Homo sapiens: one gene and its partners. The protein of the gene in region 3 purifies or fractionates together with the protein of the main gene of each other region. This does not show direct contact. Each region holds a gene or a part of one and is shown on either strand. Other genes may lie near its edges.

The links.
Region 1: the proteins of CSNK1A1L (region 3) and FAM83D purify together in Homo sapiens (affinity purification with mass spectrometry; 3 studies listed by BioGRID and IntAct, with this or other methods). This does not show direct contact.
Region 2: the proteins of CSNK1A1L (region 3) and FAM83B purify together in Homo sapiens (co-immunoprecipitation; 2 studies listed by BioGRID and IntAct, with this or other methods). This does not show direct contact.
Region 4: the proteins of CSNK1A1L (region 3) and HMMR purify together in Homo sapiens (affinity purification with mass spectrometry; 2 studies listed by BioGRID and IntAct, with this or other methods). This does not show direct contact.

The regions. Positions count from the first base shown.
Region 1 is NC_000020.11:38,943,317-38,950,818, forward strand, and holds part of FAM83D (protein FAM83D), read left to right. Parts: intron 1-4,559; coding exon 4,560-4,684; intron 4,685-7,502.
Region 2 is NC_000006.12:54,933,706-54,941,207, forward strand, and holds part of FAM83B (protein FAM83B), read left to right. Parts: intron 1-6,000; coding exon 6,001-7,502. UniProt on the Homo sapiens protein: Probable proto-oncogene that functions in the epidermal growth factor receptor/EGFR signaling pathway. Activates both the EGFR itself and downstream RAS/MAPK and PI3K/AKT/TOR signaling cascades.
Region 3 is NC_000013.11:37,102,415-37,109,824, reverse strand, and holds CSNK1A1L (casein kinase I), read left to right. Parts: upstream 1-4,160; 5' UTR 4,161-4,568; coding exon 4,569-5,582; 3' UTR 5,583-6,566; downstream 6,567-7,410. UniProt on the Homo sapiens protein: Casein kinases are operationally defined by their preferential utilization of acidic proteins such as caseins as substrates. It can phosphorylate a large number of proteins. Participates in Wnt signaling.
Region 4 is NC_000005.10:163,456,186-163,463,952, forward strand, and holds the start of HMMR (hyaluronan mediated motility receptor), read left to right. Parts: upstream 1-4,446; 5' UTR 4,447-4,507; coding exon 4,508-4,553; intron 4,554-7,670; coding exon 7,671-7,767. Other genes in the region: NUDCD2 (nudC domain-containing protein 2), read right to left, coding at 744-895, 1,377-1,425, 3,677-3,865. UniProt on the Homo sapiens protein: Receptor for hyaluronic acid (HA). Involved in cell motility. When hyaluronan binds to HMMR, the phosphorylation of a number of proteins, including PTK2/FAK1 occurs.

The DNA of each region.
Region 1 (7,502 bases), on a different chromosome or scaffold from region 3:
CCCAGCCTGCTCTGTGCTTTTAACAAATGTTATGTAACTGAATCCTCAAAGCAGCCCCTATCAGGTAAGTGGCACCTGTGTTTTAGACCAGGAAATAGTGACACAGAGAATCCAAGTGTCCACCACTTCAAAGTAGTGGGCCTAGGGTCTGCCTCCTTGTATGTCTGCCTCCAACCCCAGTGTCTGTAATCACTATTACATGCTGCTGCTGTTCATTTCTCATTATTGTAAAATTAGATTTTATGTCTATTTCTCTGATTCTGAAAATGACCTAAGTGTTTCAGTGGAAGCCTATACAACATAGCTAGCTTGGTCACTTTCATGGAAAGAAGAAAGAAAAATTGTCATATTTATTACAGAATTTGTTTTTTTGTTGTTGTTGTGTTTTTTTGAGATGGAATTTTGCTCTTGTTGCCCAGGCTGGAGTGCAGTGGCACGATCTCAGCTCACTGCAACTTCTGCCTCCCGGGTTCAAGCGATTCTTCTGCCTCAGCCTCCTGAGTAGCTGGGATTACAGGTGCCCACCACCACACCCGACTAATTTTTTGTATTTTTAATAGAGACAGGGTTTCACCATGTTGGTCAGGCTGGTCTCAAACTCCTGACCTCAACTGATCCACCCGCCTCGGCCTCCCAAATTGCTGGGATTACAGGCATAAGCCACCATATCCGGCCCAGAATTTGTTTTTTAAAAATTAAGCAACCCATGGCTTCTCAGCCTTTTGGCTAAGATCAAGTGTAAAAATTAAGCATCTTAACCTGTGAGCTTCAGAACTTTATTTGTTCATCACCTGTATGAGTATCTATTATGCACTGGGTACTAGATATAAAGCAGTCAGCAAAACGAATTTAGTCTTTGGTACTATAAGTTACTGCCTAAGAGACTCTAACTTACCACCTTATTATTACCAAGCAATTTGGTTTACAGAATTCAGATTCTCCCACAGAGTTCTTGTTGGTTGCCTCATGATAAAGACAGGATTGGGGTTTCTAGACCAATTGAGATGAGACAGCCATGTAACCCAACAGGTGGTTAGAAAATGAGTCCAGGTGGACCCAAGGAAGATACACTTTGGCATGGAAAAGAGCATTATCAGCTAGCCAGGTAAAGAAATGGAAGGTATCAGTGTTTAATTTCAAGGTACTCTTTCTATAATTAAGGCTATGCATTAGCAGAGAAATCACAGAATTGTTCTGGCCACAACTTTGGTCAAGTGATTTTCTCTATTTATCTACTAGACAGAAATCTATGAGCAGGCACCGGTTCAGTTGCCTACTGTTGGTTGTTGCCTTCATAGGTGTCCAGATCCTCTGCAGGGGGGTTTAAGAAGGCCTATTTCTGGCCGGGCGCGGTGGCTTACGCCTGTAATCCCAGCACTTTGGGAGGCCGAGGCGGGTGGATCACGAGGTCAGGAGATCGAGACCACCCTGGCTAACACGGTGAAACCGCGTCTCTACTAAAAATATAAAAAATTAGCCAGGCCTGGTGGCACACGCCTGTAGTCCCAGCTACTTGGGAGGCTGAGGAAGGAGAATCGCTTGAACCCGGGAGGCAGAGGTTGCAGTGAGCCGAGATCGCGCCACTGCACTCCAGCCTGGGCAACAGAGAGAGACTCTGTCTCAAAAAAAAAAAAAAAGGCCTATTTCTCTGGCCTCCCCAGTTTTTGTAGTTTTACCTCCTTCCTGGGGAAGCACTGTCTTCCCTGGTTGCTTGTGTCTCCTGTTCCTCTCTGTGCTAGTGAATTTGTGCCCCTTGCTGTATGGGGGCTGATGTCCCCATGCTCTGCCTCTGTAGCTGGTTCAGAATGTTGGGTTGTGCTGTCTGTAGGAACTTGGTCACACATTGATGTGCAGGCGCTCACAAGTGCTTTGGCCACGATCACAGAGGCATATGCAACATTCAGATGTGTGTCAAAGGGAAAGATACAGAAAACCACACCTAATCTGCCCATAATGGTATTCTTATGCTTATTATATGTTGATCCTTTAAGACTTGGCTCAGGGGTCATCACCTCCTCCAGGAAGCTCTCCTCCCACCAAGTCCAGGTGTACCTCTATGACATTCCCTAGTCGTTTTTCTTTTTTTAATTTTTATTTTGAAATAATTTAAGATTTATAAAGAAGTTACAAAAATAATATAAGAAATTCCTGAATACTCTTCACCCAAGTTCTCCACATGTTAACATCTTACAAACCTCAGTACAAATAACAAAATCAGGAAATAAACTTGATATCAATACTATCTAATTTACAGACTTATACATTTCCCGGTCGTTCCACTAATGCCCTTTTTTATGGTCCAGGATCCAATCCAGTCCAGGATCACACCTTACATTTAGTTGTCAAGTCTCCTTCATGTGATTTAATCTGGAACAGTTTCTCCATCTTTCTTTGTCTTTTAGGGTCTTGACCTGCCCCCACCCCCCCCCCACCACCCCACCCCCCGTTTTTTTTTTTAAGAGATAAGGTCTCGCTATGTTGCCTAGGCTGGTCTTGAACTCCTGGACTCAATTGATCCTCTTGCATCAACCAGCCTCCCAAGTAGCTGGAACGACAGACATTTGGCACTGCGCCCGGCTGGATCTTGACACCTTTAAAGAATACTAGCTAGCTGGGTGCAGTGGCTCACGCCTGTAATCCCAGCACTTTGGGAGGTTGAGGTGGGCAGATCACCTGAGGTCAGGAGTTTGAGACCAGCTTGGCCAATATGGCGAAACCCCGTCTCTACTAAAAATACAAAACAATTAACCAGGCATGATGGCAGGTGCCTGTAGTCTTAGCTACTCGGGAGGCTGAGGCAGGAGAATTGCTTGAACCTGGGAGATGGAGGTTGCAGTGAGCCGAGATTGTGCTACTGCACTCCAGAGTGAGACTCCACCTCAAAAAAAAAAAAAAAAAAAAAAACAATTTTTTGTAGAATTTGGGTTTGTCTGATGTTTTATCAAAGTTAAATTCAGATTACGCATTTGGTAAGAAGACCACAGAAGTAGCATTATGTCTTGCCATAGTTTTGTGTTTTATTTTTAGCTTATTTTGAATATTGATAGATTAACAGAAGTTGCAAAGATTGTACAGAAAAGTTTCATGTACCCTTCACCCAGTTTCCCCAAATGTTACATCTTATGTAACTTATGGTACAATGTCAAAACCTGGAAATTGACATTGTATACAGCTTTGTGCCATGTTATCGTCATGCATGCATATCCAGACAGAAGTTTCCATCACCACAAAGATCTCCCTCCTCCTGCTCCTTTATATAGTCACATCACTCCCCTCACTTTAACCCCTAGCAACCACTAATTTGTTCTCTATTTCTATAATTTTGTCGTTTACAGTCTATTTTGTAAATGGAATTATACAGTATGTGACCTTTCAAGATTTGCTTTTTTTCTCTCATCACAGTGCTTTTGAAATCCATCCAAGATGTGCACGTATCAACAGTTTGTTCCTTTTCATTGCTGAGTATTGTATGGTATCTTATACCATTCAGCCACTGAAGGACATTTGGATATTTCCAGTTTTTGTCTGTTATGAATAAAGTTGCTGTGAACATGTGTAGAGGTTTTGTGTGGATATAGGTTTTCATTTCTCTGGATGCTGTTATGTGTTACTGTAGTTTCTAAATCAATTAGTTTTCTCTCTCTTATTCTAGTCCTTGAAGGTAAGGAGCATGCCTTACATCTCTGTTGTCTCACGGCTTGGCACATAGTAGGGGCTCTCTATGTTTATGGAATCAATGAGTCAAACAAAAATCTTACACGTTTAATTTAAATGTGTAAGATTTCTAACGATATAGAGCCACTGGTCTGCTCCAGAGAATGCAGATTGTTGTAGTATTTTGTATGCCATTGTTTATACATTTATGTGTGTCATTTTACAGGAATAATTATGCATACATGTGCAGTATATTGCCCCAGCATACCACTACCAGTGTACGTTTTTGGTAATTATGTATTTGTAGGAGATGTGACATTGCTTGTTAAGCCACATGTGATATGAGTGTTTCTGCCTCAGCAGGCCTGTACTAGAGAAGGCCTGTCCTGTGTTCCTATTCTCCATACCCATTATGGTGTTGAGGGTGAGTGAGGATGGACTGTTACTCTAATGTGATGCCATTAAACAAACAAGTTGGAGGAAGATCAGCTTACCTTCTTTCAGACTTTGCTAAAATGTTCTTTATTACTAGCATGTTTTCTTTGATGATTTTATCCCACACATTTTGCTTCAGAATCATTTCTTGGATTCTGTTGTTTAGTATCCCAAAAAGGTTGAGTGTTCTTTTAGAACACATACACGCATGAACTAAGGGTCTCAAAAGTAAATATAAGAAAAGAACAGATGAGAAGATGGACCAAATGTAGAAGTAACATCACTTGAGGCTTGAGAACTGTCTGGCTAGTGTACCATGTATACTGTCACTAAATGGTGACCCTAAGCCACGCATATGCCAATAATTATATCTGGGAATTGTAAACTAAGGCTTTTTGTCCTAACCATTTGCTCAGCAGATGAGTATTGCTGAATTGTTCATTTATATTTCTCCCACTCCCTGCCAACAGTTAATGACAGTTCGGACTATCACAGGAAATATCTACTATGCAAGGTCAGGAACTAAGATTATTGGGAAGGTTCACGAAAAGTTCACGTTGATTGATGGCATCCGCGTGGCAACAGGCTCCTACAGGTAAGTCTCTAACCCGTCCAAGGCTTATTAATCTAAACTCTTCAGAAGAAGCATGTCATGTAAAGGTAAAAGCCTTTTCCTCTCAATGGGAGCCTGTATGGCCATGCATTCTGATATGCGTGCATCTGTGTATAGCAGCTGGTTATCAAAGCCTCCTGTTAGAGGCAGTTTGGGTGGGGGTCACTTCCCCTGTCCTGTAGTCCATAGATTAAAATGCAGAAGTTGAACTTGTATTGAGACAACACAGTCAGCAAGTCCTAGATTTCAAGCCTTGGCCCAGGTCTGCAGGGGACGAACTGGGGGTTAACAGCAACACACAGTCTGGAATCCTGGTTCCTTAGGGATCTGGACCCAGCTTGCCCTGCTCACTTGAAGGTAGGGGCAGTTGCAGGCATCTCCATTAGTGTTGAAGGCAGAGCCAGAGCTGTCAGCTTTAGACTCAAATCCTCCACGTTGCTTCAAGCCTTGTAATTTAGAGCTTTAGTCTAGAAAATACTGATTATGTTTCTGACCCACCTTTGAAGTGTCACATTGGCAATGGCATCTTAAGGTAGAGAGCAGGAAGGTTGAAGAGAGGGTGGGGATAATGAGCGGTTTACATGAATCTCTAGAATTTGTGCCATTTGTACATATGTGGCTCCAATGGTTGTATGTTCTGCCGCCTCTGCGGTAGATTGTCTGATGGTTTGCATGAGGTGTGTCTGTAGAATTTTAAAAAGAAAACCCCATTTTTGAAGAAACACACAACCCTGAGTGATAATTACGTGTCAGCCCTGGGTAAAGGTAGAAATGTGAAGGCTTGTGGAAAATGAGGCAGTAAGATCAAGAAAATCTTGACACCTTTCTTTTTCAACAGTACCCTCATTGCTCAGAACAAAATTTGAACTTTCTTCACCAAAGAGGCTGTGGGAAAAAACAAATTGAACTCTTTTTCTTGGAATTTCCTTTTGTAAGAAGTTTATTAAAAAAATTTGTTTTTAACCTAAGTAGGATTTATCTATATTAACCAAACTTAGCTACAAATGGACTTTTGCTGTTCTAAAATATAAAAACTACCCTCTCCAAATGAAATTGATGACGATGATAGCTTCCATTTGTTGAGGAGGTTTTATAATCTTGGTGTTGGATAGGTGCTTTATTTACATTATCTCATTGAAGGCTTTCTTTTTTTTTTTTTTCGTGATGGAGTCTTGCTCTGTTGCTCAGGCTGGAGTGCAGTGGCGCCATCTTAGCTCATTTCAACTTCTGCCTCTCAGATTCAAGCGATTCCTGTGCCTCAGCCTCCCGAGTAGCTGGGACTACAGGCATGCCACCATGACTGGCTAATTTTTGTATTTTTAGTAGAGATGGTGTTTCGCCACGTTGGCCAGGATGGTCTCAGACTCCTGACCTCAGGTGATCCGCTGGCCTCGGCCTACCAAAGTGCTGGGGTTACAGGTGTGAGCCACTGCGCCCGGCCCAGCCTCATTGAAGGCTTTCAAAAGAATCTTCCTTCTCAGGCTTTGAAGGCAGTTTTCAGGGGGACTTTGCATTAGCCATATCTTGGTTACAGGAGACAGAGTTGACTGTGTTCTATGATCTCTGTTTGAAACCTACTTCTGGTACAAATACCACCATTAGTGGGGTGATGGCAAGTGTCAGCTAACTCTCAAACGTACTGACTCGAAGAACCCGGAAGGAAGCATAGAAAGGTACAGTTGGTTTTCAGTTCATCTTGACGTAGGAGCCACACGCTGATCAGAACACTATATCCTGGTTCTGATGTTTTCGAGTTGACTTTTGTTCTTAGGCAGGCTCTCCCTTTGAAGTCAACGATCCTGGCTTTGTTTATTTTTTGTTTTTGAGACAAAGAGTCTTGCCCAGGCCGGAATGCAGTGGACGATCTCGGCTCACTGCCAAGTTCCGCCTCCTGCGTTTACGTCATTCTCCTGCCTCAGCCTCCCGAGTAGCTGGGACTACAGGCGCCCGCCACCACGCCCAGCTAACTTTTTTTTGTATTTTTAGTAGAGATGGGGTTTCACTATGTTAGCCGGGATGGTCTCAATCTCCTGACCTTGTGATCCGGCCACCTTGGCCTCCCAAAGTGCTGGGATGATAGGCATGAGCCACCGTGCCCAGCCAGATCCTGGCTTTCTTATATGGCCTTTAGTAGCTGTCTCCCAAAGGGTGAAACTCTTTCACTCAGAATTACTATCAATCCCTTCTGTCAGAATCCATTTGATAAAGAAAAAAGAAATCTCTGAAAACTTACTTGGCTCTGGTGGGATCACATGCCCACCCTGAATGAATCCCTGCATCCAAGGGAATAGGATACTCTGGCCAGTGTGGACCACATGCCTGCCCCTATTGTGGTTGGAGAGAGTATGATAATGAAAGCTTTCTGGGGTACAGGTGGGTGTGAGTTCTGCTAGCAGAGGAGGGAGGCGGGGAAGGGACACCGTACAGGCAAGGGCACATGGCCACTAATCAGCTCTAAAATGTTTTGAGCCATGGTGTTTTGTGAAAATGGCAGCACAGCCCCATGACTGTGGGTCCTCCACTGTTAGTGAGGAAGACTACTTCAGCAGCCACAAGGACAAGCTTGAGGGCAGGAAGGCCACTGATGTTGCCACTCAAACAGTAGCAAGGAGCAGGGCATTAGCAATTCATAGGGCCTAGGGTCTGATCTGGAGTCCAGCAGTAGCTCCCCTCTGTGATAATCCCTTTATCTGGTTTCCTTACCTTTAAGATGGGGGTGCTGGCCTAAATAGTTTTCTTACCTTTAAAATGGGGATGCTGGCCTAAATATTTAGAAGCCCTATTTTTTATTTTTAATTAA
Region 2 (7,502 bases), on a different chromosome or scaffold from region 3:
GTTCCTTTGGTGTCTGCCCATGGAACTGCAGGTTTAACATGCTGCTTACCTCTATTTTCAATGATTTCTAAACTCTGGTTCCAATCCTACCAGCACTCAGGTAAGATAGAAGCCAGTCTCTTGGGCTGCACTGAAGACAAGCCAGAATTATGATCCACAGTCTACTCTTTTGTTTCCATCCTGAGGGAGGACCCCCAGTCTGGGGGCTGGGGGAAAAGTTTCTCTCTGTTTGTTTCATGCTGTACCATATGGGGGAGGAATAGGAATGAGCTGGCCAAACATCACAGGTTTTTCAACCTGTATGGCTGGAATATAATGTTCTGGGTGCTCTATCTTTTCAATTGGTCGCTAGCATTTCACAGAGGTCTTCTGTTTCACATATTGTTGTTAACTAGTGTCTCTATGGGGTACGTAGGGCTTGTAACTTTCTAATCTGCCACTTTACTGACCTTGTGTTTGTGTTTTCGGAAGTATTTTTATTTGTAGTTTGTGTCTGTTTCTTCTAGGTGCCATTTTCCAGCTTGTTTTGATCTATGATTGCATCTAAGCTCTTAAGCTTTATAAGCTGTCTTTGAAACTTTGTTTATTCATCTGTTAATCTTTGTTATGTGTTTATATTTAAGAATGAGGGACTGTAAAGCTGATTAGAAACTGAGCGGGAAATGCTTATCAACGTTTGAGTTTACAGCTGAATGATAGACTGGGGACCTGGCAACTTTACAGGAGAATCCCCGACTATCAATATAAATATCACTTATCTGGGGTTTTTCAATGTTTCCAGAGAATAATGTCTTTCTCCAAAAGATTGTCAAAGGAGATGGAATTTGGAATGCAGTCAGAATATGATCCTAACTGAAGATATTCTAGAAGCAGAATGGGAAAGAGAGCTGAGGGTCTGATAAGTCTCATTTTTAGCTCACCTTTATCCCAGTCATGGTTTGTTTAAAGTTTCTGAGTTCAGACTTTCTCTGGATTGGTTTCTGCTGAAGTAAACCTTAGATTCCTGAAAGGGATAGGAAGGAGTGCTTCATGGGAAAGGAAAGAGTAGGGAACCTGGAGGCCCAACTGCTCTATATGAGACTTTCAATCAATCTTCCTGTTTCTCTATTTTCATGACCTTTCTAACCCACCATTTGTAGTACCTTTTGATCCGATGTTGAATTCATAAAGATTCTGCTGGGCCCATCTGGCTTATTCTCATTGCTGCTCACCTCATGCAAACTTCCTATAAGTCAGCCACCACTTCTCCATCAGATTTCTCTGTTCTAAACATTTATTAAATACTTTCACTTGCTACTTCCCTTTTCCCTTTGCTATCTTTTTAGTATTGTGTAGGAAAGAAAAAGAAATAAACCTGCATGATAATCCAGATTTAATGTAAACCTTTTAAGTTTTCCACCAACATAAACATCTTTGCCTTTTAGTCTTGATTTTGAAACTAATAGTTCATTTATATTATCATTTGTTTATTTACAACTAATGTTTTTAAGTGTTTACAATATGCCAAGCACCGTTCTTAGCCCCTGGAAGTGCAGTCCTAAATAAGGTACACAAGATTGCTGAGCTAAATTTTATTTTAGTGGGCACTGGAGACAGACAAAGGGAGAACATACAAGAAACCATCTGATAGTGGTAATGGGGTATTGTATAAATGAAATCAGGGGAATATGATAAAGCATGATCAGATGGATACTTTGAATAGAGTGATCATAAATGTCTTCTAAGAGCATGTCAGCAGGGGAAGAGATATATTGAAGAGGGAACAATAGATAAAAGATCCTGGGGCAGATATCTGGGGGATAGCAGAAAGGCCAGTGTGGTAGGACCACATTAAGCAAGGGAAGAGCTATCCATAGTAAAACTGGAAAGCAGGCAGGGTAGGAATTATCTTAGGCCAGGTAAGGAGCCTGAATTTTCTTTTAAACAAAACAGAAAGTTCTGTGTGGAAGTGTGACATGACCCAATTTGTTTTATGCAAAGATCACTTCTGCTGTTCTGTTGATTGAAAAATGAGCAAATGAGAACACTAAGAGTCAAATTAGCCGAAAATGCTAAGACTAGGGTGATAGTGGGATAGGACTGATTTGTGAGAAGTTTTGCAAGCAGAGTCAACAGGACCTTTTGGTTCTGAAAAAGAGGGCATTCAAAGATGACTGCTTGTTTCCTGTCTTGATCACCTGAAAGATGGCTGAGTCACTCACTTAAGCAATACTAGGGAAGGAATAGGTCGGGGAAGGAGGAGTGCTAGATGACAACTTATGAGTCATACATGTGAGGCTTGCAAGGCCCACTAAAATTTTGGGTAGAGATTGGACACAGATTCCAGAGATGAGGAAGAGGTCAGCACTGGCAATACGGACTTCGGACTTCATAGTTAATGGCATAGAAATCACCTACGATAATAGAGGAATACAGAGATCATTTCCAAGCCCTGAAGCATGTCTGTAGGTTTTCAGATTTACTTACTGAATATATTCAATGAATGTCTTCCTGTTGCCTGAAACTTTATTACAATATTATTTTCTGATTTACTATAGCAGGGAAACTTTTCCAATTGCCACACATTCACCAACACCGTATCTTCTTAGTTTTCTAACCTCAACACTTGGAAGTTGTTTTTATTTAATAACGTATGGATGTTCTTTTGACATGAAGTCTTTTGGTTCTTTCTTTTTACTACTGGCTCAACATTTTCACTCATTATTCCTATTTCTACTTTGGTTGGGCTCTTACTTTTAAGTCTGTACTACAATAGTACTACAAATAGCTACTAGAAAAAAATAGTTCCTCAAACATCTCTTTCTATTATAATTTATCCAAATTTGGAAACAAATTCTACATAATCGAACTTTCTGTTTTGTTTTCAAGATTTTCCCCACTAGTTCATCAGTCTTTTATATGGCTTCTTTGCTCCAGCTATATATAGTATGTTTTCTGTGTTCAACTAGAACATGACCCTTATTGCATTCTTCCCTTTTCCATATTTCTCCCTCCACACAAATTGTCTTCCCACATCTTTTGTGTCTGAACTGGGAATCTAGTCTTTATCAAAATATTGCAGAACTTCACTTTCTTCATGGATTTCCTCATACTTGATAGTTCACTGTTCATTCCATTACTTGATGTTTCTAATATTTTGAATTCATACCTTTAGTCAGATTGAAAATTTCTTTAGTTACTTACTTTTATACCATTTCTTTTAAGTCAGCCCAGTGGCATAATAAATATTCCTTCTGTATCATGCTTCCTATAGGCATACTAGATAAAATTAAGCATATCCAAATAACAAGATTCTTAAGTTACATGCTCCTGTTTGTGATATGTAATATTTTGTTTATTTTAAATGTTTAATCTGCACATTCTTTTAATTATTTTCCTGCATTTTTATTGTCTCCTTTATAGAAATAATAAGATGCTTCAATGTGGAGAGTGTCTCTTTTTTCTTTTGTATTAACCCCCATTGTGTCATATACATTACTTTATGCATAGCATAATAGCAATTCATTTATTTTTCAGTTCAGTTGACTGTATATTAAATCACTAGATTTTCAAAAATCAGATTTAAAATTTGATATGAATTTTAAAGGTAGCTGTTACCTCTAAACTCTAGGAAAGGAATTGGAGCTTCCATAAAGTACTATAAAGTCATACAGACATTAATTTCCTAAAAATTGTATTTTATATTAAAAGATCCTGATTGGCATTTTGACTGGCATGGTTTCTGAAGCCTGCATTTACTAATACTATGTACAGTGAGTACAGTGAATTCTGCCCTTTAATGATTGAGGCAGCTGGCCACAAATCCTGTTTACAGCTCTTGGCATCCTAAATTACACTTATTGAGTAAACCACAGAGATAACAGTCTGAAAATTTACCGACTCTTAAAATACATGCATTAACACAGCTGTATCTTACATTATATCATGTTACAGCTATGAGACATTGTAGCTATTATGCTGTCCGTATCCTTACATTGGACACGAGGAAAGTGAAGCCCAAGCTCATGTGTCTACAATTCAGCAGAAACCAGGCCTCTTGACTTTTTCTCCAACACTGGCTTTACTGCATTCTGCCAAGATGGTATATATAAAATATAATATCAGTTTTTATGCCACGAAGTTTTGACACAGATGTAAAATACACAGCAAATTTTTCTTTATTTTTTTTAACATTCTATTTTATTTATGTCATTAGTGTTTGGGGAACAGTTGGTTTTTGGTTGCATGGATAAGTTCTTTAGTGATGATTTCTGAAATTTTGGTGCACCCATCACCCAAGCAGTGTACAATATACCCAAGGTGTAGTCTGTTACCCCTCACCCCTCTCCTACCCTCCTTCTCTAGTCATTATATCATTCTTCAGACTTTGCATCTTCATATCTTTAACTCTCACTGATAAGTGAGAATATACAATATTTTGTTTTCCATTCCTGAGTTACTTCACTTAGAATAATGGTCTCCAGTTCCATCCAGGTTGTTGCAAATGCCATTATTTTGTTCCTTTTTATGGTTGAGTAGTATTCCATGGTATATACATACCACATTTCTTTATCCACTTGTTGGTTGATGAGCATTTAGGCTGGTTTCATATTTTTGCTATTGCAAATTGTGCTGCTATAAATAGGCATGTGCAAGTGTTTTTCATATAATAACTTCTTTTCCTCTGGGTAGATACCCAATAGTGGGATTGCTGGATTGAATGGCAGTTCTACTTTTAGTTCTTCAAGGAATCTTCCTACTGTTTTCCATAGTGGTTTTACTAGTATACATTTCCACCAGGAGTGTAAAAATGTTCTCTTTTCACCACATGCATGCCAATGTCTATTAGTTTTTGATTTTTTAATTATGGCCATACTTGCTGGAGTAAAGTGGTACCTCATTGTGGGCTTAATTTGCATTTCCCAGATAATTAGTGATGTTGAGCATTTTCTTTTGTATTTTTGTTGGTCATTTGTATATTTTCTATTGAGAATTGTCTATTCATGTCTTTTGCCCATTTTGATGGGATTATTTGTTTTTTTCTTGCTGATTTGAGTTCCTTGTGGATTCTGGATATTATTCCTTTGTTGGATGCATAGTTTGCAAATAGTTTCTCCCACTCTGTGGGCTGTCTGTTTACTCTGCTGATTATTTTGCTGTGTAGAAGCTTTTTTGTTTAACTAGGTTCCATCTATTTTTCTCTGTTTTTGTTGCATTTGTTTTGGGGTTCTTGGTCATGAATTCTTTGCATAAGCCAATGTCTAGAAGAGTTTTTATTATGTTATCATCTAGAATTGTTATGGTTTCAGGTCTTAGATTTAAGTTTTTGATCCATCTTGAGTCGATTTTTGCTTAAGGTGAGAAGTGAGGATCCAGTTTCATTCTTCTACATGTGGCTTGCCAATTATTCCAGTATCATTTGTTGAATAGGGTGTCCTTTCCCCACTTTATATTTTTGTTTGCTTTGTTGAAGATCAGTTGGCTGTAGGTATTTGGCTTTATTTCTGGGTTCTCTATTCTGTTCCATTGGTGTATGTGCCTATTCTTATACCAGTAGGATGCTGTTTTGGTAACCGTAGCCTTGTAGTATAATTTGAAGTCAGGTAATTTAATGCCTCTAGATTTGTTCTTTTTGCTTGGTTTTGCTTTGGCTATGCAGGCTCTTTTTTGGTTCCATATAAATTTTGGGATTGTTTCTTCTTATTATGTGAAAAATGATGATGGTATTTTGATGGGAATTGCATTGAATCTGCAGATTGCTTTTGAAAATGCACAGCAAGTTTTTCTTTGGACTTCTGGAAAGTAGTGGATTCAAAGCCAAAATTTGAGTTGCGTTGTTATTTAAAATAGGAACATGAGGATGGGAAAACATGTAGTGCATGTAATGACGGAAAATATTCTAAATAATGATAGCCAAAGAAAAGTACAAAAACATAGTCATTAAGTGATACTTTTTTTAGTAGAACTATATGTTATTATCAATCTTTTAAATGATTAAAATTTTTCCATTTTTTTCCCCAGTTATATGTGGTCATTTGAGAAAGCTCACCTCAGCATGGTTCAGATAATTACAGGACAACTTGTTGAGTCCTTTGATGAAGAATTTAGAACTCTCTATGCCAGATCCTGTGTCCCTAGTTCATTTGCTCAGGAAGAATCAGCAAGGGTGAAGCATGGAAAAGCCCTCTGGGAAAATGGCACTTACCAGCATTCGGTGTCTTCATTAGCATCTGTTTCCAGCCAGAGAAACCTTTTTGGTAGACAAGACAAGATTCATAAACTAGATTCCAGTTACTTCAAAAACAGAGGGATATATACTTTAAATGAACATGACAAATATAACATAAGAAGTCACGGATACAAACCTCATTTTGTTCCTAACTTTAATGGTCCAAACGCAATACGTCAGTTTCAACCCAATCAGATAAATGAAAATTGGAAAAGGCATAGTTATGCTGGGGAACAGCCAGAAACAGTGCCATACCTCCTGCTTAATAGGGCTCTGAATAGAACCAATAATCCACCTGGTAATTGGAAAAAGCCATCTGATAGTCTCAGTGTGGCGTCCTCATCACGGGAAGGCTATGTAAGCCACCACAACACACCTGCCCAGAGTTTTGCCAATCGGCTTGCGCAGAGAAAAACAACAAATCTTGCAGACAGGAATTCAAATGTTCGGAGGTCTTTTAATGGGACAGATAACCATATCCGCTTTTTGCAACAACGAATGCCAACCCTTGAACATACCACAAAGTCATTCCTACGTAACTGGAGAATTGAATCCTACTTAAATGATCATTCAGAAGCTACACCGGACTCAAATGGATCAGCTTTAGGTGACCGATTTGAGGGCTATGATAATCCTGAGAATTTGAAGGCCAATGCCCTTTATACTCATTCTCGGCTTCGTTCCTCTTTAGTATTTAAACCCACTTTACCTGAGCAAAAGGAAGTTAACAGTTGTACAACTGGCTCCTCAAATTCAACTATCATTGGTTCTCAGGGAAGTGAGACACCTAAAGAGGTCCCAGACACCCCTACGAATGTACAGCATTTGACAGACAAACCCTTGCCAGAATCAATCCCCAAGCTCCCATTGCAGTCAGAGGCACCAAAAATGCACACCTTGCAGGTTCCTGAAAACCACTCAGTAGCCTTAAACCAAACTACAAATGGCCATACTGAATCAAATAACTATATATATAAAACCTTGGGTGTAAATAAGCAGACAGAAAATCTAAAGAATCAACAGACTGAGAATCTACTTAAAAGGCGAAGTTTCCCGTTATTTGACAACTCAAAAGCCAACTTAGATCCTGGAAATAGTAAGCATTATGTATATAGTACACTTACCAGGAATCGAGTTAGACAACCAGAAAAGCCCAAAGAAGATTTGCTGAAAAGTTCTAAAAGCATGCACAATGTGACTCATAACTTGGAGGAGGATGAGGAGGAAGTTACCAAGAGAAACTCTCCAAGTGGCACTACTACCAAATCAGTTTCCATTGCTGCTTTACTTGATG
Region 3 (7,410 bases):
TAATGAATCATTTATACTTAGTCTCATTCATTTTGAACATCTGACATAATTACAACTTACAGCTTTTTCTTTGTATTAGAGTAGATAGCTGTTAGAACTTAAGCAAAATTCACTGAAAGGAACTGGAAGATGCAATAAGTGTGATGTCATGAACTGTTTTCATGTAATTTTTCTGATCTTTGAATAAAGTAACATAATTAATGAATGTGTTCACATAATGATCTGCCAACAATTTGAATGGTCTTAATAAGGTGACAACCTGCAAGAAAAAGTAAAAGAGGTTACACAACTCCTCACTGCTCTGGAAGGAAGTCCAGAAAGGTGCCAGAATTGCAATAACTTCATGGGAACCAAACAAAATAAGTAATGATTTTTAAGGCTGAAATTGAACCCTACATTCTCAATATAGTAAAATTGGTATTTAAGTGTTTTCTTTTTTTCAGATAAACATATTGCAAGTTTCAAAATGAGTGAACAGAAAGATGCAGAGCCATGGAGAAAATATTCTTTCATGAAGAAAGAAAAATCCAGCACATTACAATGACGCCCTCTGCTGTGATTTTTGATACTACACCAAATAACCTCATTTCCAATAGTGTCTCACTGTCTTTGCAGTGCCAATACTTCCAAAAAGCTTTGAGGAAAAAATGACTTAAATCCTTCTATAAAGTTAGTCATCTCCAGGATCTTTTAAAATTGAAGTGATTGATTCTGGGTAATGTTATTCTGAACATAGTGTTTGAGCCACATAAATGTCAGTAAATCCCTTAGTGACAGCATTATTTATTTAAGAACATATTTTGATTTATTTTGTATTCTATTTAAATAGTTCCAAAAGGAGATTATATTCATGCCAAATGGTTTCTGTAATGACAACTGCCGACCCAATTTGATAGCCAAAAATTTTTTTTTTTAACTAAGAAATTTTTGTGTCTCAAATGACCATTCTACTAAAGTGTCTCCATTTCCTGGGAAAAGATACCAAGAAGCCCAGAAAATTAACCCCAAAATTCATATGAGACTAAAACCAATGCCATTTGAGTATCATTTCTTAATTGCCAAAAGCAGACACGGACTTACAGGGAAGTGAATAAAGCCTCCTTTGCAAGGTCCCTTCTAAGTGTTAGGAGTGGACAGGAGTTGTGAAGTATTTCAGGTGGGGAGGAGAAGTCAGATTGCAATGTGGAAGCATTTCTATGTAAGAATTTCTGGTCAATTGCATCAAGATAGCTTAGGGGATAAAAAAAAAGACTTGACCCTCTAACACTCAGGTAAATTGCAATGATTTCTTTTCCTAAGTTAAATATTTCATGCCTGTTTGTTGTTGTTCTTGTTGTTGTTGTTGTTGTTGTTTTCTTAAAGAGGGCCACAAAAAAAATTGTATAAAGTTCAGGACTGACAAAACCCGAATTGGCTGTTAAACAGTACAATACTACCCAGTACAATCCTGCCCAGAATACGTTATTTTACTTTTACTGGGGTCATCTTATATTAATAGAAATTATTTTAGAGGCAATTTTGAAATCAAGGCTAAATCATAGCTTTAAAATGCATTGGTAAAATACTTTATACAATTAAAGAAAAGAAACAGAACTAATATATTCCCAACAGTGAAGCCACCCAGCGTTCAGGAGCCTCTGGCTGTTGATGTCTATGTAGGGGTTAAAAGTACTGGCTTTGGAGGCAGGCTATCCTGGATTTCCATTCTGAATCCATCATTACCTACCTATGCCACCTTTGGTGAGTCACTCATGCCTGCAAATAGGAGGCATTCAATAACTATTTGTTGAATGAATGAATAAATAAAGAATGCATCAACCCCACACACTGTCCACAAAACTTTATGAAATACAGTAGTTCAATTTACTTCCATTTTAAAAACTATTTGTTGCACATCTTTTATGGAAAAATTTTGGACAAAAGGGTAGGAGGGGATGCAAGAGTTTAAGCAAAGTGTTGTTTGGGTTTAAAAAGAGTATTTATATTTGGTTGAGGAGATTGGAAAAGGTTTCATGGAGCAAACAGCATTTAAGGAAGAGCCCTGAGATTATTAGGATTAGACCTGGGCGATGGGAAAGATAAAGCAGGCTGGAAGCATTTCAGGCTGAGGAAACAACACCATAAGCCAAGACCCAAAGATGAAAAAATGCAGGGAGTATGTGTTCGGGGAAAAATCCGCAGTCCCACCGGCTTGTGGTAAGAGAATTCATGGGAGACTGGATTGGAAGCTATTCAGGGTCATATCATCACTTCAGTTACTGATCCTCCCCATTCTGGAGATGCTCACAACTTCCCTGTAAGTGAAGGTTCACCCAACCACCATTATAAGTTACACTTGACCTTCTTTATAGACAGTGCCTTTATTTAACTGGTACAAAAAAGTATGGGACTTAGTAAACAATAAATAAACTATAATTAAACTATTCTAGTTCCAGAATTGAAAGGGGATTTTTTGATTCAAGCTTTTGTCCATGTATGGGTTATCTGTAACTTTTTTGAATAGTGACTTCTCTCACATAGAGATTATTTGAATTTCAAGGTTCGTGTTGAAGCCATTGACTGGAAGACTGAACGGGAAGGAAGCATAATGGGCAGTGGGTTAACAACATAAATTTTATTCTTGGTTATTAGAAAGGAAATTGTTCTCCAGGCAAATTTCAACAAAGTTGGATGAGTAAATGAAAGAAATGCCATTCTAGTTGGTACGGTATAAAAAGTAACTACCTTGGGTCAGAATTCAGTTTCAAATTGGCCTCTGACACTTGTCTGTAGTGTGGTCTTGGGCAATTCATCTAACCTCTCTATGCCTTGATTTCCACTTGTATAAAATGAGAAGTACAATCATAATAATAAAATATGCCAGCAGTATACTGTATTACTATCCACCTGAGGTAGGAGTATGTATTTTCACCCCACTGTCTTTGGACCTGGCCATGTGATGTGTTTTGCCCAGTGGAATGTAACATTTGCCACTCCTTTTATTATGAGAACAGCATGCTCCTAAGGAGGCTGCTCTTTCAGCCTGCATTCTAGAACAAAGAGGACACAGGAAGCAGAGATGCAGCTGATCTACAGCTTACATAAAACCTGAATGATAAATAAACTTTGTCATTGTAAGCCACTGAGATTTGCGAGTTGTTCCTGCTGCAAAGCCAAGTAATATACTGCGCTACCCACCTCACATATTTGTCTGAAGTGGACTTTAAAAATGTTTTAAAGCACTTTATAATGTTCTATGCCCGTCTATGTCTCAAACCAGCTCCTTCTCTCGCCATAGATTGATGCAGGTCAGAAAAGTTAACAGCACTAACTTATGTGAGACAGTAAAGTGAGAATACCTGCTTTCAAAGCTGCACCTCTCTCTCCTGCCTTTCTGCCATTGGCCCCCAAATTCGTTGCTACTGCCCCGTTAGGATTATACTCAGTTCCTATCCCATCTCCTCATAAAACAAAATAATCGCACGGGTTTTGTTATTTGTGATGTGAACTTTCATAAAAATATTGAAATGGTACCGCTTTTTCTGCTAGTGCTGGCCCCAGTTCTTCTGAGAAAATGCTCAGAACTGCCGGCTTCTGTTTCTTCTCCATATTTTGGTTAAATTTTACTTGAATCCTTCATTTAGTCAGTTTTGCCAGAACGTCTCTGTGGAATCCTATTTAAATTCAAAGCACTCTATGAAAAAATTTCAAAAGGATCGCTTTAAAAAAAAAAAAAAAGACATTTCAATTTAACTAGCAGTAAGTAACTCTTGTTGACTAAACTCATTAAAGAAGCAACCACTGAGATCACACAGAAAAACCTCAAGAGGTGGCACCCCGACTCGCATTAACCCAGGGAGACATGATGGCTAAGGAAGTAGATGGGACAATGACTGGGCCCGAAAACAAGAAAATCTTTGTTATAAAAGCCTCCCATTTCTGCACGATTAAGTTGAAAGAAGGTGAGCTTCGAGTTAAGCCTAGGCAGTTTTGAATTCCAGCTCGCCCACAATCTCTTGCAACCTTAGGCCGCTTACCTGAGACTCAGCCTTTCTTACCCAACAAATCAGGGAAAATAATAGCTACCTTACAAGACTAGCAAGTTTGTCTTAAATGGAGTGAGATGAGTGGAACACCTAACAGAGGTCTCAGACAATAACAGCTTCTCCAAAAATTCTCGATTTGTGGTTGGCTGAGGTGGAGGAACAAAATGGCGGCGCCGGCGGCGTGACCGGGCCCTCTGGCCCACAGCCGTTGGTAGCGGTGGCAGCAGTACTGCTGCCCCAACTCGCTGTGCCCCCTTTCTCAGCCCACGACATCGCCACGACAGCGAGGCAGCGACCGCCACCGAGAAAGAGGTGGTGGCCCAGCCTGGAACCTTGAGAAACCCTCGCAAACTGTGGCCTGGCGGAAATCCTGGTGTGCTGCAGGGATCAGGCTGACTCCACGCCCTGTAACACCGGGAAACGCCTCGGTGGCCATTTCCAGCAGCCCTCATCCTCAGCCTTGCGGGCCGGTGGGCCCCGGAGGCCTCCATCCTCCCCTAGAGGGGTCAGGGCTGAGCCCAGCCTCCATCTTTGCCTCTCAGGATGACAAACAACAGCGGCTCCAAAGCCGAACTCGTTGTGGGAGGGAAATACAAACTGGTGCGGAAGATCGGGTCTGGCTCCTTTGGAGACGTTTATCTGGGCATCACCACCACCAACGGCGAGGACGTAGCAGTGAAGCTGGAATCTCAGAAGGTCAAGCACCCCCAGTTGCTGTATGAGAGCAAACTCTACACGATTCTTCAAGGTGGGGTTGGCATCCCCCACATGCACTGGTATGGTCAGGAAAAAGACAACAATGTGCTAGTCATGGACCTTCTGGGACCCAGCCTCGAAGACCTCTTTAATTTCTGTTCAAGAAGGTTCACCATGAAAACTGTACTTATGTTAGCCGACCAGATGATCAGCAGAATTGAATACGTGCATACAAAGAATTTTCTACACCGAGACATTAAACCAGATAACTTCCTGATGGGTACTGGGCGTCACTGTAATAAGTTGTTCCTTATTGATTTTGGTTTGGCCAAAAAGTACAGAGACAACAGGACCAGGCAACACATACCGTACAGAGAAGATAAACACCTCATTGGCACTGTCCGATATGCCAGCATCAATGCACATCTTGGTATTGAGCAGAGCCGCCGAGATGACATGGAATCCTTAGGCTACGTTTTCATGTATTTTAATAGAACCAGCCTGCCGTGGCAAGGACTAAGGGCTATGACAAAAAAACAAAAATATGAAAAGATTAGTGAGAAGAAGATGTCCACCCCTGTTGAAGTTTTATGTAAGGGGTTTCCTGCAGAATTCGCCATGTACTTGAACTACTGTCGTGGGCTGCGCTTTGAGGAAGTCCCAGATTACATGTATCTGAGGCAGCTATTCCGCATTCTTTTCAGGACCCTGAACCACCAATATGACTACACATTTGATTGGACGATGTTAAAGCAGAAAGCAGCACAGCAGGCAGCCTCTTCCAGTGGGCAGGGTCAGCAGGCCCAAACCCAGACAGGCAAGCAAACTGAAAAAAACAAGAATAATGTGAAAGATAACTAAGCGTGAATGAGGAACAGAAGAAGCAGAGCAGATGATTCGAGCAGCATTTGTTTCTCCCCACATCTAGAAATTGTAGTTCATATGTACACCAGCTAGTGGCTGTGAACAACCATTTAGTTGGTGTAAAAAACTTTATTTCAATATAAACTGACTCTGGGGAGCGTTGGTGATGCTGTATCCCAAAGTGTAGCCTCTGTAATTGTGAATATTAACTGAGGTAGTGAAACGTGGTGTCTGGTTTTCTATTGCATTTATTCAAGTAGAAAAGTTAACTAAATGGTTGACACACACGAATTGGTGGAGACATTGTCCATATGCCAATTTTTTGTTAAAACCTTTTATTTTGAACTAGACTGCTTTGAGATATCATTTCAGAAGGACAGTATTCAGCCACAGCTGCAAAGGTTGTAAATGCTTATGATTGAGCATTTTTAGGGTTTCTCCATCCCTGGGGTTTGCAAATTGTTCACATAAAGAGCATTCTTAAAATGGTTGGCTTCTTGTCTGTAAGCCAGCTGATCTAGTAGTAACCAAAAATTCCAGTTTTGAGAATAGGAAAGATTCCGCCTGCTTACCTGTGAAGACATAAGAAAATCTTAGTAACTACCAGATTATCTTTAGAATTCCACATTAACTATATCATGTTCTCGGTATTTTAAAAACAACAACAACCATATTTGTCACAGAAATTTAGTTAACATCTTACAACTGAACATGTATGTACATGGCTTAGATAAATGTAATCACCGTAAACACCCATATGATCTGGGATTTTGTTCATATTTTGAAATGGGAGCTTTTATGTTTTACAAGTTCACTAAAATCTGAAAACTGTTTCTATAAGGAAATAATACTTTTTTAAACAACAACCAAAAAATGCCTTGCTGATTCACTAGGAAATAAAAATCTCCCCAATTTTTTGATAGTCAACTTCGAGCCATTTGTTACATGATATTCCCTTGCAAGTAAATTTTATTTCATTATATAACTTTTTTCAATGTTTTTATTCTAAAATAATCGTTTTGTATGAAGGGGAAATGTATTCTTTCATTTTTCTTTTTCTAATGACTTGTGGTAAAATATCTAGTACTGCACCTGCCAAAACTTGGTATTGTTACTTCTTCCACTGACTAATAGCTGGGCTGATTTCAAATAAGAATGCAAGCATTGAAGGGTTTGACTACAAAACATTGTTGTTTAAAATACTTGTGAAATGGCTATAAGCAGTTGACTTTTACCCTTGGAGAGCACACTGTGAGGTTCTGTGATCATTGACCCTCCCTAACCCCCGTCTGCTTCTCTGAATTATCTGTGTGTGCGTGCTCTTCCTCTCAATCTTTTTGCACGTTCTTTTCTTTTTCTCTGATGCAAGATAAAGGAAAACTCATTTTCCTTTTAATTCTTTAAATCGTGTAATTTATTCACTTATAGCATGTCAGGATAAATTAAAAGAACATTTGTCTGAAAATGCTGCCAGGAGCCTATTGTGTAAATGTAGGCATTTTGTAAAATAACCTTGAAATTGTAAATTGCCACGTTTGGTCAGATTGTGTCAGGTTTCATTTATTTTTTTCTCTTTTTCATTTGAAAACTACTTCAGCAATAATTAATTCCATGATTACCACATTCTGCCATTAAGGGATATATTAGTACTATAATGCTGAAGAAATCTTAACAAATCCAAATGTTGGGGGTAGGAAGCTTCTTTGTTTCTTTCTATCCACCCTTGTTAGTTAAGGTATTCGTTTCTTAGCTATTAAGCCCTTTCCAGAAATCAGTCTCATAAAGCTATTTTTGAGTATAGTTTATGTAAAAGAAAAATATTTAG
Region 4 (7,767 bases), on a different chromosome or scaffold from region 3:
ATACATCTGGAAATCATTATCATAAAGACGTACATTATCAAGTGCTGCAATCTAGCAATTCCTCTCCTAGATATTTATCTTAAAGATATCTTAGAACACTTGAGTAGTTTCACAGAGATGAAAGCACAGCTTTCTTTAAAATAGAGAAAAATGAAGAAATCTAAATCATATCAAAGGCAAACAGCCAAATAATGATGACACATCCAAACTACAGAATCCTCTGAAGCAGTTAAAAAGAATGAGTTTTATACCTATGTATTAGTAGGGAAAGAGACCCACAGCATATTATTAAATAAAAAAGCAACAAGAAGAACAATACACACAGTGTGATCCTCCATTTATGCTAAAAAACAAAACAAAACAAGCAATAGCCAACATATGAGATGAAAATGAGATAGATGCATGGAATGGGGAGAATGGTGGTGAAGGGGCCTTTCACTTTTTACACTAGGTAAGTCTATATTGATTCAACTATAGTAAGAGTTTATTCATGCATTACTGATGTACATAAAAGTAAGCTTAAACTCACAAATCACAGCAATACAAATAAATTCCTCTCAAGAAAATCTTCCGAAAAATCAAATCCATACAAGAAAGGCCATTTTTCTAACAATTCACTTTAAAAATTCTTCTAGAAAATGTTTGTAACTTTTCATAATGACATTTGAGTTTTAATTTCAAATATTTATTTGATGATTTTTATATATTTAATTACACATACTCATACACTTCATCTGACTTACTTCTTTTTGGAATCTCTCTAATGTAAGCTTTCTCTGCATTTGGTCTTGCACCCAAGGATCCGCTGCATATTCAGATTCTAGTAGAGAAGTCCAACAATTTGCTGCATCTCTCTTTGTCTTTGTAAGAACAATACGAACCATTTTTCTGTCCTCTAAAAAAAAAACACACACACACACACGCACAAATAAATTAGAGTTCTTCATCAAGTTGTTTTTTTTTTTTTTGAGACAGTATCACTCTCACCCAGGCTGGAGTGCAGCGGCTTGATCTCGGCTCACTGAAACCTCCGCCCCCCGGGTTCAAGTGATTCTCCTGCCTCAGCCTCCCGACTAGCTGGGAATACAGGCATGCGCCACCATGCCCGGCTAACTTTTGTATTTTTAGTATAAACGGGGTTTTGCCATGTTGGCCAGGGTGGTCTCAAGAAGTTCTTCATTAAATTTTATATTTCCAAAAACAACTAACTAATTTTTTCTCCCCCCACTAGGTAACTTTGACATACAACGGTTTTCAACACATTTCTATTGCTTTATCTTTCAAAGCTGCAAAGACAAAAAAGACCTAATACAAAAGAGGAAAAGATATCAAGACAAAATTATTTTAATTTGATGAATTATAGTAATTACCCTTACCCAAAGTCCATGTTCCCTCATCAGCTATTGTAGAATCAAAGAGTTTGCCCTGAAAAATAAACATATAAGGTGCTAAAAATACAGAATTTAATTTTTATAAAGTTTTCATGATTAAGATTTACCTACTTTCCTACCTAATCCACATCTTATACCACCACTTCACCATGACATTTATAGGTGCACAACCCTAAATTTTCTCCCAGCAGGTAAAATGGAAACTAGTTTACACTGCAAGGGATATTTACTATGGCAAAGAACACAGAGCTCTCTAAAGAAAGATCAGGGCTCCTTAATTTTTAGAAGATACAGTAATACTGACCACTGGCCAAATGTGAAATTAATATCTGAAATGCTTTAATTCTACCAATTTAAATTAACCACAAGAAGGGATCTCCTGCTAAAACTAAAAAATGTTGTCTTTTTTTTTTTTTTTTTTTTTTTTTTTGAGACAGAGTTTCGCTCTGTCGCCCAGGCTGCAGTGGCACGATCTGGCTCACTGCAACCTCCACCTCCAGGGTTCAAGCGATTCTCCTGCCTCAACCTCCCAAGTAGCTAGGACTACAGGCGCCCGCCACCACGCCCGGCTAATTTTTGTATTTTTAGTAGAGATGGGGTTTCCCCGTGTTAGCCAGGCTGGTCTCGAACTCCTGACCTTGTGATCCGCCCGCCTAGGCCTTCCAAAGTGCCAGGATTACAGGCATGAGCTACCGCACCCGGCAAAATGTTGTTTTTAAAGTAAACTTTTAAAAACGTTTTAATCTTTTTGTTGGGCAATCGGCATTAAAAAAACTTTACGTATTCCAGATTTGATAGATTAGTTGTGACTAACTGTTCACAAACTCATGTTTTTTAAAAAAATAAACAAAATATAAATTTAAAAGAGACTGCACCAGGCCCAGTAGCTCAGGCCTGTAATCCCAGGACTTTGGAGGCCAACGTGGATTGCTTGACCCCATGGGTTTGAGGCTGCTGTGAGCTACAATCTCACCCCTGCACCCCAGCATGGGAGACAGGGACCCTGTCTCAATAAATATATATTTTTTTTTAAAGAGAGAATGCCTAAACTCAAATCCATTTTAATTTGTTGCCAAATTTAAGTTATAGAAAGTGAAATTAAATGTCACTAGGAAAAGCCCACATTTTAAAATATGTCAAAATTAGTGAGAAAAAAATCCCACTGGTCTATACGTACATCAGAAATCCCAAATTCAGCAGCTACTGCTAAATTCCGAAAGTTACTGGATTTACTAATTTATAATCGTAATCTAAAACCATTGTTGAGGAAACTATGAATTGTACAATTCAGAAAAGTAACTGAGATCCAAGCTGACATAATGTCTTTCACACGAATCTTGAGGCACTCAAAGCACCTCCATATACTGTAATATATATAATAGCTAATAGCTAACATATAGTATGAACTTATTACATACCAGTGAATACTCCAAGCTCTTCATACACGTGAATACCATGTTAAGCTCAAAACAATCCCATGAGAAGGGTACTATAACTACCTTATCTTGTGGATAAGGAAGATATAGAGACACTGAACAATCTCTCGCCCAAGTTTACAAAACTAGGAAACAAGTAGTCTCCCTTCACCATATTACACTGCCATCAAACATCTTGGGCATCTAACCTGAGAACTAAATCTAATTTCAACCTGTTAGTTTAATTATACACTTAACAAAGAAAAAGCGGGTCCAGATCCAAAGAGCATTGGTGAAAAGAAATAAAAGGAGTACTACTTATTTTATGCACACACCTCTTCACCACCTGCTTGACCACTCCACAAACATGCAGGATTTTCAAGCTTTTAGATGAGAAAACTAATCACCTGACATCATCTCTAAATTCTCTGCCCGTTATTCTATCCCTATTTTCTTTGTTGTCCTTTCCTATATTTATCTATTTATGAATTACGCTTCCGTACAGGAGCTTAACCTCTCCACTGCAGGTACGTTATCTGTTGTCTTCCTGCCTGTCTTCAGTGCACGGAAGAAATATTTGTTCCTTTAGCAACCTAGTTAATCTGTTCCCAGCTGAAGCCCGTCAGAGAAGCAGAAGCAGCAGTCTTAGTTTGAAAACTAAACACGAAAATAGGCTCCTCAAATTTCCACAACTCAGCACCTGCCCTGAAGAGGCGGGGGCTCTGACCAGACCCAAACCTGGTCAGTGTTATCCTCTTTCTCTTTCTGCCAGCCACAGGAGCCGTCGGGACACCCAACAGTCGTTCAGGGAAACGGGGCTGGGGGCGTCTGGGAAGAGGAAACTGAACACAAGCCCCGAGCTGCCGCTACCTTGAGGATCTCGCGGCCGCCCACCGACAGCGCCACATGCCGGCTCTGGAGGCCGCACTGGATATCCTGGGCGCGCGTGCCTGGCGGCACCTGAACTTCAATGAACACCTCCTCCAAGGTCTGGTACCACTGGCCCCACGGGGTCCCGCACGGTACCACCCCACTCCGCTCCTCAAACGGGGCCGACATAATCCAGTCCCTCCCGGCCGCGGCCGCACCAGGCGGAGCCGAGCGCACGCGCGGAATCCCACGCTTAGGCTACGCCTCGGCCTCTCCGCTCGGGTCACTGCGCATGCGCAGGAACGCAAGCTAGCGCTTTGGTGTGCGTGTTCGTTTTTCCCTTTGAATGGCCGTTTACGGCACCGGCAGGCCCCGGATGAAAGAACTGAAATCCAGAAAAGTTCACATGCAACGAACAATGGGACAGAATTGGAACCAGTGAAGCCGGAACTCACTACACCGTCCCCTAAGTGACGCCAAAATGCACTTTCTAACGTCTCCGGAGGGAAGTGCGCTTGCGCAAATGCTAGGTTACACTTGAGTAACTCCGGGAATGACTGGGTGGGTGGGGCGGGGAACAGTAACGGTCTCCTATTGGATGGCAGCCTAAACTCGCAGGCCAGCTAATTGGACGCAATCAGAACCCAGCATTCTTTCTTCGTGTTCCTGTGCGGGATTGGTGTGCCCAGGGGTTTGGCTTTCCAATTGGCTAACGCCGGGGTGGGTGGGGAATGTGGGGAGATTTGAATTTGAAACCGGTAGGGAGTGATAATCCGCATTCAGTTGTCGAGGAGTGCCAGTCACCTTCAGTTTCTGGAGCTGGCCGTCAACATGTCCTTTCCTAAGGCGCCCTTGAAACGATTCAATGACCCTTCTGGTGCGTAAGGGGGAAAGAGCTGGGGGACGGGAGACGCCCTAACGCCCTTTGCCTCTTTCAGCTCCCTTCTTGGGAGGCAAGCAGGAGGCGATTTTAGGGTCGGGCTGGGGCTCATTCAGTTGATTGATTTTTCTCAAATATGCTCTAAGCATCTGTTACATGCCAAGCACTAATCAGGATGCTAAGGATACCGCAGTGAAACAGTCTCCGCCCCGTGGGGCTTACATTCAGGCGGGGAATACTGTCAATAAACAGCGGTAATGGAGAAACTACAGCAGGGCGAAGGGAATGGACCCGAGACGTTGGTAGCTACTTGATTTTCAAGTCCGAGAGGGCCTCACTGATAAGAACACTGGAGTATTACTTGTAGTCTGAACTTGTGCATTTCTTTTGTGTATTCCATTTGGGCATAAAAGAAGGAAGATTAGTAAAGGCAGTTTATGGGTGTAAAATTAGAGCAGCAGCACTTATTGAAAACATAAACAATGAAGTTATGGCTGATATTGACCACTTATACCTCAAGCACCGTACTAAGGCTTTACATCGATTATTAGTTATGTTAATTTCCCACCAACTCTAAGGGGTAATCCTATTATTATTTTATTGATAAAAAGACTGAGACTTAAATTTGCTCAGTGCTACATTACCAAAGTGACCGGACTGGAATATGAACCCAGCCCCCATCGTGTGCTCTTAACACCGCAATGCACAGCACAGTAACCAGGAAGCCTTAGCTGTGTTTGGTAGGCACTCATCATTTAAGATGCTGTATGCGGCCGGGCGCGGCGGCTCACGCCTGTAATCCCAGCACTTTGGGAGGCCGAGGCAGGTGGATCACGAGGTCAGGAGATCGAGACCACCGTGAAACCCCGTCTGTACTAAAAATACAAAAAAAATTAGCCAGGCGCGGTGGCGGGCGCCTGTAGTCCCAGCTGACTACAGGCTGAGGCAGGAGAATGGCGTGAACCCGGGAGGCGGAGCTTGCGATGAGCCGAGATCGCGCCACTGCACTCCAGCCTGGGCGACAGAGCAAGACTCTGTCTTACAGAAAAAAAAAAAATGCTGTATGCTGGGACTGTGCTACTAGATCTTGTTTATTCCTTCCAAAAGCCAAGTGAGGAAGGTACTGATATTGACCTCATTTTACAGATGAGAAAACAGAGGTTTTGTATCTTGCACAATCAGTAAGTGGTAGAGCTAAATATTAAAGCTCATGATTTATTCACTATCATACACTATTTCGTGGTTACTCATTACGTCTCTAAGTTTTGTCAGCCAACGTGTGAATGAAAATACAACTACTCACAAAGGAAGGCCAAATGAGCAAGTGAATCAGCACAAACTTATTTTCTTAGTTAAAAGACTCAAGGACCATATGATTTCCCGAGTAATCAAAGGACCTACTCTTAAGTTTTGTCAGCAGTGTGGCTTTAAGGTTTTTTTGGTTTTTTTGTTGTTTGCATTATAGTAGGTTAAACTGGCTTTATCAAAGATATAGTATTTCAGGCTCACAGTTACAGAAATAATACTAATTATTAATTTGATGCTTAATGTGTATGAGGCACTGTGGTGATTTTTCATATTCCAGTACTCCAGCCTGGGTGACAGTGCGAGACTCTGTTTCAAAAAAAAAAAAGCAAAAAAACCCCCAAAATTTATATTTCAACCTAAGATGTATTTTTATATCTCTACACATACATACGAAAGAAAAGTTTCACAAAACAATGCCTAACTTTGCAGCATATGAGTCATGCTTTTTCTATTGTTTTTACTTTTTAAAAAATGCTAATCAAGATCTACTCATGGGGCTGGGCCTGGTGGTTCACACGTGTAATCCTAGCACTTTGGGAGGCCGAGGCAGAGAGATCAGCTGAGGTCAGGAGTTCAAGACCAGCCTGGCCAACATGGTGAAACCCTGTCTCTAGTAAAAATACAAAAAACTAGCTGGGCGTGGTGGTGGGAGCCTGTAATCCCAGCTACTCGGGAGGCTGAGGCAGGAGAATCGCTTGAACCCAGGAGGCAAAGGTTTCAGTGAGCCAAGATGGCGCCACTACACTCCAGCCTAGACAACAGAGCAAGACTCCGTCTCAAAAAAAAAAAAAAAAAAAAAAAAATCATGAGTTCCTGTCTACTGTTTGACAAACATTTAGGGGACAGCAGTAGTTGCCTGGGAATGGTCCAAGCTCCTTGCTCTTCCTATTTATTTGCATGAGACTCTAGACTGAAGTAAATAGCTTTTCAGAGAATAGTATTAATCTATTTGTTCCCAATCAGCTAAAGCTTTAGGCTAGTAGTATTTTAATTACTTTAAGTCCTAAAGGCCCCATCTCAGGTCTGCTATGTGTATTTACTCAGAAATGCCTTCAAATCTGGGACTTTAGTTAAGTGAAATTATGCAGTATAAACTTCTGGAACATACAAATATAGTCTAGTACAATTTGTACTTTGTGTAACATTGGCTTTTTGAATTTCCTAAGCCTCACATTCTTTGTCTATAAATTATCACACAGGATTCTTGTGAGGATTAAATAAAATAACATCTGTGAAATGCTTAGCATAATGCCTGGCATTTAGTAAGTGCTCAAAAAATTCTAGTTGCTCTAGTGTGGTTGCTTTTCTTCCATGTGTTTGAATTGCAGTTGACATCTTTAATAGGTCTGATGTATTGATATTAGCCAGAGATGGATTATCACTATAAATTTTTATTCTAGGCTAAACATTGAGGGATAGACAATTTTAATTACTTTATTTCTAGAAACTGATAGTAGTTATCTTTGTGACTCTCTTCGAGTAGAGTTGACACCAAGTATTTTATTTGCTATATTCAATCCTTAGTAAGAAAGCCATATATTGCCTGTAATATATGATGTTCATCTCAAAACTGTCGTTTGCTCAGTTGCCTGTGTTCCTTTGACCCGGTTGATATAAAGGGCAAGATGATATTGTTCTTCATAGAGAGGCCTTCTTTGTAATATCAAATGGATGCAATTTTTTACATTTAAAAAAAGCAGTTTGTTAATGACATTTTTACATTTATATTCACTTTATTATGACATGTTTTAACTTAAGATCATAAGTAACATTAGATAATATATTAATGTTTTCTATTTCCTCTAGGTTGTGCACCATCTCCAGGTGCTTATGATGTTAAAACTTTAGAAGTATTGAAAGGACCAGTATCCTTTCAGAAATCACAAAGATTTAAACAACAAAA